Linked DNA regions of Homo sapiens: region 1 is reported to be linked to region 2. Evidence: microRNA targets listed by miRTarBase, many of them from high-throughput screens and not tested one by one. Region 2 holds a microRNA gene; the other region holds the end of a gene's coding sequence.
The links. The annotated mature microRNA hsa-miR-6771-3p reads CAAACCCCUGUCUACCCGCAG and lies in region 2 at 5,018-5,038, opposite strand. An mRNA with a match to its seed (bases 2 to 7 or 8) in the 3' UTR can be bound and repressed. Matches are read on the target gene's strand: a 7mer-m8 pairs with bases 2 to 8, a 7mer-A1 pairs with bases 2 to 7 and ends in A, and an 8mer does both.

Region 1 (7,095 bases), not on the chromosome of region 2:
CACCCCGAGGAGAGTGCACCAAGATGGAGAGGTTGGAACAAGCAGAGCTGAGAACAGAGCTCCTCAGCCCAGGGCGCGTCCACAGGGAGAGAAGGGTGGCAGCAGGGCCATCCACAGCAGCTGGAGGAGCCCTCAGCACAGGGCCAGCCCAGGGTGGGAGAGCTCTCCAGTGCCAGAGAGAGCACAGTTTGAGTGCCCTTGGGAGCAAACCAGTCCAGTCTCATTATTGAATGAGGAAATTTAGACCCTAAAAAATGAAGTGAACTTGCCCAAAGTCACACTGCTCGTTTGTGATATATGGACCTAAGATTCAAACCCTGCATGTTACTACTCCTGCAACACAGCACTGTCTCTCATGTATCTGAAGCAGTGGATTCAGGAGCCTCTCTTCCCTCTGCTCCCCACAAACCTTAGCTGATGTGTGTCCTTCCTTTGCAGCTGGCTCTCCTCACGGAACTCTCCCAGAATCGCAGCAGCGAGAGCTATAGGCCATTCAGTGGCTCGCAGAGTGCTCCTGCTTTCAACAGCATCTTCCAGAATGAGAACTTCCAGCTGCAGCTCATTCCTCCACCTGTGACTGAGGATTGATGACTCCATGGAGCCTGGCCCAGGAGAACCAGAGATGATCCCGAGGCAGCTGGGGAGAGGCCCCGCCTCTGGTGGGCTTGGCCTCCACCACCTCCCACGCTTCTGAGAAGAGGTTCCAAATTGGGCTTCTGTGCCCAGAGCGTCCACAGCACCATTCCCAGTGTAGACTCCCAGTCTTCTCCACATTGCTGTCATGGCGTCAGTTCACCAGACTCATTGATTTTGTTTTGCTTGTTAAGCAAAGGAATGTCACATACCTCTGTCCAGCTTTTTAGGAAATACATTTCGCCTATTGCGACTTTTTCCATTTACCCTGAAGCCTAGAAAGTAGGTGGAACTCACACAAATGGCATTCCAGAGTCTGCCATACTCCGTCTCCTCCAGCTGCTGGATAATACAGAGGAACTTCAACTTCTACAGGGAACAGTGGTTGGCCAGGCTGCAGTATAACTGAAGCATGCCTTGGAGAGAGCAGACACTGTGGGGGCCAGGGCCATCTCCCTTTAATGTGTTCATGTTAAAACCTATTTGAGTGTAAGACTTGCCCTTTCTAACAATAAATGCTCCGTGTTTAAGTTCTGCAGGTCTCCTGGCTGGCTGGCTCTCAGTCTGTCAAGTCATGGAGGACATTTCGAGCCCTGTTGTCACAATTTTATTAGCTCAAAGTCAGGAATCCTGCCTGTGACAACCCTCCTTAATTCAGATAAGCAGCTCCATTGTCAGCTGTATTCAGAGCAGCCCAGCCACCCATATGCTCCCGTGACAGGCGCTGGGCTGCCAAAGAGAATAGTACTCAGTTTTTGGCCATGGGACTTCGTATATCATTGAACCAACTGCCACAGGAGGTCGCCACACCCAGACACCTAGGTTTCCACCTTACATACTCAGATGATCCTTTTCTCAGTGCAATGGAATCGTCAGGCTCTCATGGACTGATACTAACCAAACCCACAGGAAATAGATACATAAACTAGGTAGAAATTTTTTTTTTTTTGAGACAGAGTTTCACTCTTGCTGCTCAGGCTGGAGTGCAGTGGTGCTGTCTTGGCTCACTGCAAGCTCCGTCTCCCAGGTTCAAGTGATTCTCTTGCCTCAGCTTCCCGAGTAGCTGGGATTACCGGCACCCACCACCACGCCCGGCTAATTTTTTAATTTTTGGTAGAGATGGGGTTTCACCATGTTGGCCAGGCTGGTCTCGAATTCCTGATCTCAGGTGATCCGCCTGCCTTGGCCTCCTAAAGTGCTGGGATTACAGGCATGAGCCACCACACCTGGCCAATAGAAATTTTTAACTCTTAAATAGAAAATAGATCTTGTTTCTGCCATGTACTACGTATAATCAACAAATCAGTTAACCTCTCTAAGCCTCTGTTTCTTTATAAACAGAACTGTTATGAAGAGGAAATAATACATGTAAACATTTGCTATGTGCCATTGAGGCACATGGCAAATACCCCAGAAATGCTAGCTTAGCTTTTATTATATAACTTCTCCCAAGACCTGGGCTACAAGGGTACTGCTTCCTGATGAAGGTGTCAGGAGATAAAATTGAGGGAAGTGGTTGAACCATTAAGTCATCATTGCTTGGATGCCTGCCGCAGCTATATGACAGTCTCAACCCCAGCTGACAGATGAGAAAGCTGAGGCTCAGAGGTGATAAGTAATTTCACCAAGGTAACCTACCAAAGAGGTAGCAGAGCAGGTGGAATTCAGAGTTGTGATTCCAGAGCCAGTGATGCTACCTGCCCCAAGTTATGTATCAAAAGGTTTCTCATTGAGCCTAAAATAAGGCCAAAGGAACTTGATGTTCTCAAAGCAAAACTCAATTATTCCTTTTCTTCTTTTATAGTGTAAAGAACTAAGGCAAAGGAGTATTCAATATAAAAAAGCAAATTGTGACATCAAAAACATGAAATGTATGTGGGAAGGGTGAAGTAAAAGCAGAACTTTATGCAATCAAAATAAAGTTGTAATAAGTTTAAAATAGCCTGTTATAACTAAGATGTTGGCCGGGCACAGTGGCTCACGCTTGTAATCTCAGCACTTTGGGAGGCCGAGGCAGGCAGATCATGAGGTCAGGAGTTCAAGACCAGCCTGGCCAACATGGTGAAACCCTGTCTCTACTAAAAATACAAAAATTAGCTGGGAATGGTGGTGCGTGCCTGTAATCCCAGCTACTTGGGAGACTGTGGCAGGAGCATCGCTTGAACTGGGACCTGGGAGGTGGAGGCTGCAGTGAGCCGAGATGGTGCCACTGCACTCCAGCCTGGGGTACAGAGCGAGACTCCATTTCAAAAAAATAAGTAAGATGATTTATGTAAGCCTGATGGTAACCACAAAGCAAGAAATTATAGTAGGTAGATAAAAAGCAAGGAATAAAAAGTATACCACTAGAGAAAATCATCTAATCAGAAAGAAAGCAAGAGAGGAGGAAAGGAACAAAGGATCTACAAAACAATGAACAAAATTGCAGTGGTAGGTCCTTACCTATCAATAATTACCTTGAATGTGAATAGATCAGATTTGCCAATCAAAAGACAGAGTGGCTGATTGGATTAAAAATAAGATCTAACTATATGCTGCCTAAAAGAGACTCACTTCACCTTTAAGGACACACGTAGCTTGAAAATGAAAGATGGAAAAAGATATTCTGTGCAAAGGAAACCAAAAGAGAGCAGGAGTACCTGTACTTCAATAAAATAGACTTTAAGTCAAAAAGTGTCAAGTGAGACAAAGTTATATAATAATAAAGGGGTGGATTCATCTAGAACATAAAACAGTTGTAAATATATATGCACCCAACATCAGAGCACCCAAGTCTATAAAGCAAATATTAATAGAGCTGAAGAGAGAAATAAACTGAAATACAATAATAGGGGACTTCAACAATGATTTTCCAGACAGAGAATCAATAGAGAAACACTGGATTTGAATTACACATTAGACCAAATGGACCTAACAAACATACACAGAACATTCCATTCAACAGCATGAGAATACACGTTTTTCTCAAGTGCACATTGAACATTCTCCTGGATAGACCATATTTAAGCCACAAAACAAGTCTTAACAAATTTAAGATTGAAAATCATAACAGTATCTTTTCTGACCACAATAGTATGAAACTAGAAATCAGTAATAGGAATTTTAAGGAATTCACAAATCTGTGGAAATTAAACAACATGTTCCTAAAGAACATGGGTCAAAGAAGAAATACAAAAATTTTTAAATATCTGGAGACAAATGAAGATGGAAATATCCCATAAAAATATCATTTATGGTATGTGGCAAAAGCAGTTTTAAGAGGAAAGTGTATAGCAATGAAGTCCTACATCAAGAAAGAAGAAAAACTCCAAATAACCTATTGGCATAACAACCTAAAGAACTATAAAAAGAACAGACTAAGCCTAGAGTTAGTAAGAGGAAGAAAATAATAAAGATCAAAGCAGAAATAAATGAAATAGAGACTAGCACTAGAAAAATAATTTTAAAAAATCAATGAAATTAAGAGGGTTTTGTTTGTCTGAGACAGGCTCTTGCTTTGTCACCCAGGCTGGAGTGCAGTGGCACAATCACTGCTCACTGCAGCCTCACCCTTCTGGGCTCAAGTGATCCTCCCTCAGCCTCCCGAGTAGCTAGAACTACAGGGGCACGCCACCATGCCCAGCTACTGTTTTTTGTTTGTTTGTTTGGTAGAGGCAGAGTCTCACTATGTTGCCCAGGCTGGTCTCAAAAAACTCCTGGCTCAAGCAATCCTCCCACCTCAGCCTCCCAAAGTGTTGAGATTACAGGTATGAACCACTGTGCCTGGCCAAAAGTTGGTTTTTTGGAAGGATAAACAAAATCAATAAACCTCTAACTAGACTAAGAAAAGAAGAAGACTCAAAATCAGAAATGAAAGATAAGACATTACAACTGTAAAAAGGATCATAAGAGACGACTGTGGACAAGCACATACACGAACAAATTGGATAGCCTAGGTAAAATAGATAAATTCCAAGACACATATACCACCTACCAAGACTAAATCATGAAGAAATAGAAAACCCAAACAGAACAATAACAAATAATTAGATTGTATCAGTAATTTAAAAGTCTCCCAACAAAGGGAAGTCCAGAACCAAATGGCTTCTCCACGGAGTTCTACGTACCATTTATAAAATAATTAGTACCAATTCTTCTCAAACTATTCCAAAAAATTGAAGTAGAGGGAACTCTTCCTAACTCATTTTACAAAGCCAGCCTAACCCTGACACCAAAAACAGCAAGGACACTATACAAAGAAGAAAATTATAGGCCAATATCCCTTATGAACATAGCTGCAAAAATCCTCAACAAAATACTAGGTAAGTAAGCTGGGCATGGTGGCTCATGCCTGTAATCCCAGCACTTTGGGAGGCCAATGCAGGTGGATTGCCTGAGGTCAGGAGATAAAGACCAGCCTGGCCAATGTGGTGAAACCCTGTCTCTACTAAAAGTACAAAAATTAGCTGGGCATGGTGGTGCATGCCTGTAGTCCCAGCTACTTGGGAGGCTGAAGCAGGAGAATCGCTTGAACCCGGGAAGTGGAAGTTACAGTGAGCCAAGACTGTGCCACTGCACTCCAGCCTGGGTGACAGAGTAAGACTGTCTCAAAAAACAAAACAAAACAAAACAAAAAACTAGTTAACTAAATCCAACAATACATCAAAAAGATTATAAAGATAATACACCATGATCAAGTGGGATGTATCACAAGAATACAAGGATGGCTCAACATATGCCAATCAATATACATGATACATGACATCAATAGCATGAAAGACAAAAACTATATGATCATCTCAATACCTGCAGAAAAATCATTTGATAAAATTCAATATCCTTTCATGATAAAAAAAAAAAACTCTCAATAAGTTAGGTATAGAAAGAAAGTACCTCAACACAATTAAGGACGTGTATGGCAGACTCACAGCTAACATCATACTGAACGAGGAAAGACTGAAAGGTTTTCCTCCAAGAAATGGAACAAGACAGGGATGCCTACTCTTACTACTCTTATTCAACATAGTATGGAAGTCCTAGCCAGAGCAGTCAGGCAAGAGAAAAAAGGAAGTCAAATTGTCACTCTTTGCAGACAACATGATCTTAGAAAAACCTAAAGACTCTTATCAAAAAACTCATAGAACTGATAAATGAATTCAGTAAAGTTGCAGGATACAAAATCAACATGCAAAAATCAGTAGTGTTTCTCTAATAACACTAGCTGAATAACCAATAACAAACTAGCTGAAAAATAAATCAAGACAATCCCATTTACAACAGCTACAAAAAATAAAAACAATCTAGGAATAAATTTAACCAAGGAGGTGACGGGTCTGTACAACGAAAACTAGAAAACACTGATTAAAGAAATTGGAGGTCAGGTGCAGTGGCTCTTGTCTGTAATCCCAGCACTTTGGGAGGCCAAGGTGGGAGGATCACTTGAGCTCACAAGTTTCAGACCAGCCTGGGCAAATGGTGAAACCTCATCTCTGCCAAAAATACAAAAATTAGCCAGGTATGGTGGCACACCCCTGTTTTCCCAGCTAAAAGGGAGGCAGAGGTGGGAGGATGGCTTAAGCCCAGGAGGTGGAGATTGCAGTGAGCTGAGATGGCACCACTGCACTCCAGCCTGCATAATAGAACCAGACCTTGTATTGGGAAAAAGAAAGAAAGAGAAAAGAAGTTGGAGAAGACACAAACAGACATCTCATGATCATAGACTGGAAGAATTAACATTTCTAAAATGTCCATATTACCCAAAGCAATGTACAGATTCAATGCAGGCCCTATCAAAATACCAATGTCATTCGTCATTGAAATAGAAAAAAAAATCTTAATATGTGTATGGGACACAAAAGACCCTGAACAGCCAAAGCAATTCTAAGCAAAAAGAACAAAGTTGGAGGCTCACACTACCAGACTTCAGAATATACTACAAAGTTATAGTAACCAAACAGCATGGCACCAGCATAAGAATATACATAGACAGAATAGAGAACCTAGAAATCAATCCATGTATGTGATTTTTGACAAAGCCAACTGATTTTTGACAAAGACACCACATACACTTATTGGGAAAAGGACACCCTCTTCAGTAAATGATGCTGAGAAAACTGGATAGTCATAGGTAGAAGAAAGAAACTAGACCCCACCTCTCACTCTATACAAAAATCAACTCAAAATGGATCAAAGACCTAAATGTAAGATCCAAAACTATAAAGCTACTGGAAGAAAACATAGGAGAAACACTTCAGGACATTGATCTGAGAACAGATTTTATGACTAAGTCCTCAAAAGCACAGGCAATAAAAGCAAAAATAAATAGGATTATTTCAAACTAAAAAGCTTCTGCACAGCAAAGGAAATAATCAACAGAGTGAAAAGACAGCCTACAGAATGGAAGAAAATATTTGCCAACTGTTCATCCAACAGGAGTTGAATATCTATATCCAGAATATATAGGCAAGGCGTGGTGGCTCACGC
Region 2 (7,118 bases):
GCCATCACAGACCCAGGCCCCAGACACAGCACCAGCCCTGCCTCCAGGTCCCCTGCACCTGCCCAGCCTGGGAACCATCCCTGGCCTGTGCCCTCCGCCAATTACTCAGTTTCAGCGTGTGCCAGATGTTTCCTGCTGGGCCCCATCTGGCACATGCTGAGTGAGTTCTGAGTGACTGCAAGGACAAGAGGACAGTGGCTTTCCTAGAAAGCAGGCAATCTTGGCAGACCTGGATACTAGGCTCCAGCTACCCTGATCTCCTCTCGGACCAGGCACAGGACTGCCCATGGACCCAGCCCAGCTCTCGGGGATGTAGGAGAGGCCACATTCCCCCGGCTGCTCCACCGGCTGACAGTCCCCTGTGTCTCTGACACTTGGAGTTGGGGAGCTGGGTCTTGTGCGGAGGTGTGACTTGTATGCCTCTGAGAGAGGAGGCCCTGGCTCTTGGAAAGAGCTTACACTTCTGGAATCTGATTGTTGATAGGAGAAAAGGCTGGGACCAGCCCTGCCCAACTCTGCCCAGAGATTAGATGCTCTGACTGGGAAGCTGGCACCTGCCATGGCCTCCCTTTCCCCATCTGTGCAATAGGGCCACGCCTCCTGGGCCTGCTGGAGAGGGAAGACTGTGTCCAAGGGCAAGGGACCCTCTGTGTGGGCTTTATGGTAAGGAAAGGGCCAGCTGTGGCCCGAGCCCAGGGCCCCTGCCTCACATGAGGCCCAACCTCTGGGGCTCCCAGCTGCTGGTTCAGAAGCCATGCAGATCCTGAAGGAAGGTTCCAGGCTAGACAGGCCCTCTGAGTCACTCAGTCCACAATCCCCAGGATGGGACAGTTTTCCAGAGCATCCCTGACCAGTGCAATCCTGTAGAAGCTTGGTTACCCCCTGCAACAGGGAGCCCACTTCCAGTCCCTCCTGGGATTGAGTAGCTCTGATCATGAAAAATTCTTCCCAGTGTGAAGTCATAACTTGCCTCCCATCAAGTTCTAGACCATTGATTCTCTGCCCACAGAGACACCTGCGGGGCTCTTACAAATTCTGGCCAGGCGCAGTGGCTCACACCTGTAATCCCAGCACTTTGAGAGGTCGAGGCAGGCGGATCACAAGGTCAGGAAATCAAGACCATCCTGGCTAACATGGTGAAACCCCGTCTCTACTAAAAATACAAAAAATTAGCCAGGCGTGGTGGCAGGCGCCTGTAGTCCCAGCTACTCAGGAGGGTGAGGCAGAATGGTGTGAACCCGGGAGGCGGAGCTTGCAGTGAGCAGAGATCACACCACTGCACTCCAGCCTGGGCAACAGAGCAAGACTCCGTCTCAAAAAAAAAAAAAAAATTCTGATGGGGCAGGGCATGATGGTGCATGCCTGTAATCCTAGCACTTTGGGAGGCTGAGGTGGGTGGATCACTTGAGCGTAGGAATTCAAGACCAGCCTAGACAATGTAGCAAAACCCCATCTCCACAAAATACAAAAAAATTAGCCTGGGGTTGTGGTGCACACCTGTAGTCACAGCTGCTCGGGAGGCTGAAGTGGGAGGACGCCTGAGCCCAGGCAGGTTGAGGCTGCTGTGAGCCATGATTATGCCATTGCACTTCACGCTAGGTGACAGAGCAAGACTCTGTCTCAAAAACAAAACAAAACAGAACTCTGATGGGTGTGGACATGGGCACTGGTGTTTTATTTAAGCTTTCCATGTGATTTGCATGTACAGCCAGGATAGGGAGCCACCACCTTAAATCTTACACTTCAGTCTCTATTTAATGGCCACCACTTCCAGGAAGCCTGCCCTGATCACCTGAGGCTGGGCTAGGTGCTCCCCAGGCTTCCTGGCCCCCACACTTCTCTTCTTCAAAGCACATACCATGTAGGCCCAAGGCCCCACCCAGACTCAGGGCCTGGCACTTACCCTCTCTCAGGACCATTTGGTCCATTAATGGAAATGTTGCTTGCCTTACCCCCTCCCTGCCTGGCACGTGTCGAGCTCCTCAGCATCCTGGTCCTCGCCTCAGCCCTCATGTCCTTGCATGTCAGACCTTGTGCCCTTGTCCCCCTCACACCTCACACGCACACTGAGCACGTTCACCCCATGGACACACGGGGCTTTCTTTCTACTCCAGGCTTTGTCTATGCTGTTCCCCCTGCTAAGAACACTGTTCCCTTTCCTCCTCAGATATTTTTTCAAGTATCTCAGACTTTAAGGTGGGCCAGGAGTGGTGGCCCACGGCTGTAATCCCAGCACTTGGGAGGCCAAGAGGGGATGATCACTTGAGGTCAGGAGTTCGAGACCAGCCTGGCCTACATGGCGAAACCCCATTGCTACAAAAAAAAAAAAAAAAAAAAAAAAAAAAAATTAGCCAGGCGTGGTGGTGCATGCCTGTAGTCCCAGCTACTCAGGAGGCTGAGGCATGAGAATCACTTGAGCCTGGCAGGTCGAGGCTGCAGTGAGCAGTGATGGCACCACTGCACTCCAGCCTTCATGACAGAATGAGACTCCATCTCACAAAAACAAACAAACAAAACGTAAAAGTTTAATGTGCACATGATTCACCTCAGATCCTGTGAAAAGCAGCTTCTGGGTGAGGCTGGGCATTCCACAGTCCTCCTGAGCTACCAGGTGAGTGGAGGCTGCTAGCCTTGCCAGTGAGGATGGAGCCATCTCCTCCTCCTGAGCCCCCATCTGAGCTCCAGAGCCCCAGTATATCGCCCAGTGTGCACTGTCAGTCTCCCCACTGGCCTGTCACTCTGGGGGCACAGGATCCTGGCTGCCGTGGCCACCACTCACCCCCACCTTTACCATGGGGCGCTTGTGTTTGCTGGCTGGATGCTAAAATTCAGCCACGCCTCCCCATCCCAATTCCAGCAGGGCACTGAACACAGGACACCCCTGGGGTGTAATAGGCAGGGGAGGGGCCTGGCTTTGCCCATTGTAGGCCAGCGGGCTCACCTTGGCGATCTGGTCGAACTTGCCAAAGAGCTCATTCAGCACCACCACCAGCTCCTTGGGAGAACAGTCGCTGGCCAGCTGCGTGAAGCCCACGATGTCCGCATAGAGGATGCTGGGGATGGGGCAGGGTGGGAGGGAGTGTCAGAGCCAGGCTCCTAGACAGCAGCAGCAGGAGCACGCAGGACTGTCTGGAGCCCCAGGAGCCTGCCAGGCCTGAGCCCATTCACCCCCGTCCTTCCTCAGCCTCCATAGGGATGGGAGAGTCGCGCCCAGCCATAGAGACAGATTAAAGTTCCAGGGGCTTCACGTTAAAGCAGAAGGGAGCAAAATTCAGAGCCTACAGGAGCCCTCGGCCCCACCCCAGGCCCTATCACTGCAGACAGCCGAAGGGCACTCCTGCAGGCAGCCCGGAGCCTTCCCCTTTCCCATCCAATGTTCACCACAGCACAGACTTCAGAACTCCCTGGTGAGAGGCAGCTCCATGCTCCCTCAAGCCAACCTCCACACCCAGCACTTTACAGGCATCGAGTCCTCACACAGCCCTTGCCGAACTCCCGTTCTACAGATGCACAAACTGAGGCTCCAGGACATTGAGACTTGCTGGGAAGCCAAGAGCTGGCATCTGCACCAGTTCTCCCTGCTCCAAAGTCCTTAAGCTCATGGACCATCCACAGCCCAGAGAAAAGGCAGCGGGCCAGCCTTGGATGTAATGCTGGCGCTGCAGGCAGAGGACCCAGGGGGTCTCCTGGGACCCACATCTACACTCAACGGCACCCAGCACCCACATCGACACTTGACAAACTCAGGTCAGTGCATTCAAGTAAAATTTTGTGGTTCCCTGCAAATCAGCCAAAGACAGGTGTCAGAACCGGGGCACTCTTGGGCACCAAGGCCGGGGGGCTTTACCTCATTCTGGGGGTCCTGTGCTCCCTTGAGAACCATCTGAAAGGACCCCTTCCTTCACAAAAGCTATGTTTGCTCACACAGTTTTACAGTTTTGGGGGTGTGCTAGATCTTTCAATACCAATCTAAATTCTCTAATTTAAGAGCCCTGATCTGATCCTGCCCACAAGTGGGGGTTCTGAGACCCAGGGAGGGCCCCAGATTGACCTGGAACCATGGGGCCCTCTCCCAATCCCTATATGGGCAGGGGTCTGAGCCTCCAGATAGGGCGGGGAGGCCGCCTGGGGGCCGGTGGAACGGTGGGCCCAGTCCCCGGGATATGCTAATCACACGTCTCACCGCCCACCTGACATTCTGGTGCCTCTTGACGTAGAGGCTGTGGAAGTTGTTGTCAGGCATGCAGCGACGGTCACCATGCTCCTTGAGCCGTTCGATGATGGCCAGCTTCATGCCCATGGAGATGTGGGCCGGAAGCACTGACAGCAGCAGGTTCTCCTGGGTGTGGGTGGGCAGACCAGCAGAGGGACCAGCAAAGCGACCGGCGGAGGGACCAGCGGGGGACAGGCAGGGTAGCATCAGGTCCCAGACCTGGCCTCCTTGGCCCCCATCCTCCCTGCCTGCCTGCCCTGCCCACAATGTCCCCATCTCTGCTCTTGTCCTCCACCAACCCAACTGAGCATCTACCTCCCATGTACCCAGCAGCCCCCGGGACTCAGGGTGACTGAGAAAGGGCTCTTTCAGCTGGGGAGGCTAAGCTGATGGGTGAGCAGCCTGGAGCCACTACGGCCTTCTCTGCCGCCACCTGGGGACTGCGTGCCCAGGACTGAAACCACACAGAGGAAGGCAGAGTCAAGGGTCAGCAGGCTATGGTTACCCTGCTGGAGCCCAGGACTCACCGAGGTGAGACCTGCATGGGTGTCTGGCCATGCACCTCATGCACATGGCAGCATGAGTGTCTCATGTCCAACAGAAAGAGGAAGAGGACAGGGGTGTACAGGGTGAGGAGTGGGGGCCGGGTCCCACCTGCTGGCGCTTCTCGATGCGCAGCTTCCGGCGGATCTGGATGCACTTCACAGTGTAGGTGAAGAGGTCCCGGGATGCATCCTGCATTTGGTGCTTGTGGAAGGCGCCTGTCAGGTTCCCACACAGGAAGATGACTGCGTTGGCCAGCAGCTGCGGGTAGACAGGGGTTTGGCTCATTATGTGGCCTGGCCCATGCCCTCCCGAGGCACCAGACCCCTAGGCGGACTAGTGATGGCACCTCTTCCCATTCCCTGACCTTCAACCCACTGAGAATGGCACTCTTCCTGGGGCAGACAGGGAAACTGAGGCCCAGACAGGAGCTAGTCTCCTAGTGAGTCACTAGGACTGCAAGACCAGGACACCCAGGGAGGCAGAAGAGACCACCTCACAGAGCCCAGGGCCCGAGGGGCATGCGTGCTAAGGGCAGTCCCAGAGGGCACAGCGCCCAGCTGGCTGTGTGGAGGGCCAGCCTCTGCCTGGAGAGGACACCAGGCCTGGTCAGAGGGAAAACACTTCTCTAAACACCCAATAATTATGAACAGAAGATTCACTCATTCAACACAAAGACACAAGGCAGTGCCCTGGGGTACTCCCCCAAGCCCCGCCAGGACAGGGCCTTCGAGGGGAAACTTCGGCAATGGGACTCACCCCACGACAGTGTCCCTGAACCGGGAGGCAAGGCCTGAGGTCACGACCCTGAGGGCTGAGCCACAGGGGAGCCCTAGGCCAGCAAAGCAAAGGCCAGAGGGCAGGGCCACGCCTGGAGCCCAGCTTCCGAGCAGACGTGGAGAGGGCCCGGCCTTGGAGCGGGCTGTCTGCAAACACGGCTCCGGGGCCTTCGGGTCTGATTCACCCAGAGGGGGCCCCCCCATCTGCCCTTAGACCCAGACCACAAAACCTCCCCCAGAGGCCTTAGCCCATCCCTCACCTGCAGCCCCACCCGGACACTGGGTGTCGTGAAGCCTCCCATCAAAGAACCGAGCACCAGGAGGTGGGAGGCAGTGGAGACGGCCCCAACGGCGACAGCGCCCCGCATGCTGAAGGGCAGTAGTGTGTACACCACGAAGACAATGAACAGGAAGAAGGGCACCTGTGGATGCAGCCTGGTGAGCCCGGTGCCCCAAGATGCTGCCCCAGGCCGTACAGCCCCCGGAACCCTGCACCACAGCAGCCCACCCAGTGCGTATCCTTAGGTTGGCTCCCTCGCCACCCCCTGCGTGGGCAGACATACAAGGGAACAAGAAAAGCCATAATGTGTTTCTAGGGTGGGCCCGGCCACAAGGTTCATGGTTTCCTGTGCTGATCCACTGCCTGTGGCCACCCTAGGTGGGAGGCTCCATGCCCCGCGTGATCCAGGGAGCCCCCACCTGGTGCCCCTGCCACGTGGTTCTCGCTCAGCAGAAATGATTACCGGGAGGCTGAGGCACCCTCTCACCAGCTGCCTCCAGCAATGCGGCCCCACCCGCCCTCCCTCCACCCCCAGAGCTGCCCCACCATCCCCACCGGCTGGTCCTGCGTCCACCCCTCTGGGAGTGCTGCCCTCTCCCTCCCCTTCAGTCCACATGGTTTCCTTGGGCCTCACCCCACCCTGCCCCAGCCACAGGAGCTGTCATAGGACCCAGGCCCACTGGTCAGAGTGTGCTACCGCTTGGTGACAGCCTCTCTGGGACTGGGCCCATGACCACAGCCAGGCCAGTGTGGCTCAAGCCTGCAGGTCGAGCTGGTTGAGAAAGGGCCCTCTCTCTCAACTGGGGTGGGCAGCCTGGAGCCGCTGTGAACTTCTCTGCCCCCACCTGGGGACAGCGTGCCCGGGGCCGAAGCTGTCCAGAGGCCCCAGTTCCAGTTACCCACTGGAGCCCAGCACTGACCCCTTGGCCTTTCCTGACACAGGAACCAGTTTGTGCCTTTTTGCCTCTTTGAGCTGAAGTTCTGTCATCTCCAACCAAACTGGAGCCACCCAAAAGTGCTGCAGCCCAGCGTCCGAGTGGATGCTCTCCCCACCTCAGCCCTGTCAATGCAGAGAACTCACAGGGACAAAACCAGCCTGGGGCCATCCTAGACACACAGCCAAGCGTGGGGCACGAAGGGCCTGTGGCATGCCCACCAACCACGGGGATGGGAGCTGCTGAAGGCGCAGCTGGCAGGGAGTCCAGAGTTCCTGTTACCTGCTCCCACGCACAGGCCGCCTTTGTCCATGCGTCGAACACCAGCACATAGCCCAGCGCCACCAAGCAGGCCCAGGTGAGCAGCG

Region 1: the mRNA of VPS8 is a reported target of hsa-miR-6771-3p. The part of its 3' UTR that is shown has no 7-base or 8-base seed match.

Annotation. Positions count from the first base shown.
Region 1 is chr3:185,051,438-185,058,532 of GRCh38, forward strand. VPS8 (VPS8 subunit of CORVET complex) reads left to right here. Exons shown (of 48, transcript NM_001009921.3): 48 at 439-1,167. The coding sequence ends at 588. Among named protein-coding and RNA genes, the nearest start is that of C3orf70, 98 kb to the right of the region's middle.
Region 2 is chr16:50,290,575-50,297,692 of GRCh38, reverse strand. It overlaps MIR6771 (microRNA 6771), which reads right to left and starts at 5,077; the gene lies at 5,018-5,077. ADCY7 (adenylate cyclase 7) reads right to left here. Exons shown (of 26, transcript NM_001114.5): 3 at 7,033-7,118; 4 at 5,796-5,957; 5 at 4,868-5,017; 6 at 4,191-4,339; 7 at 2,942-3,053.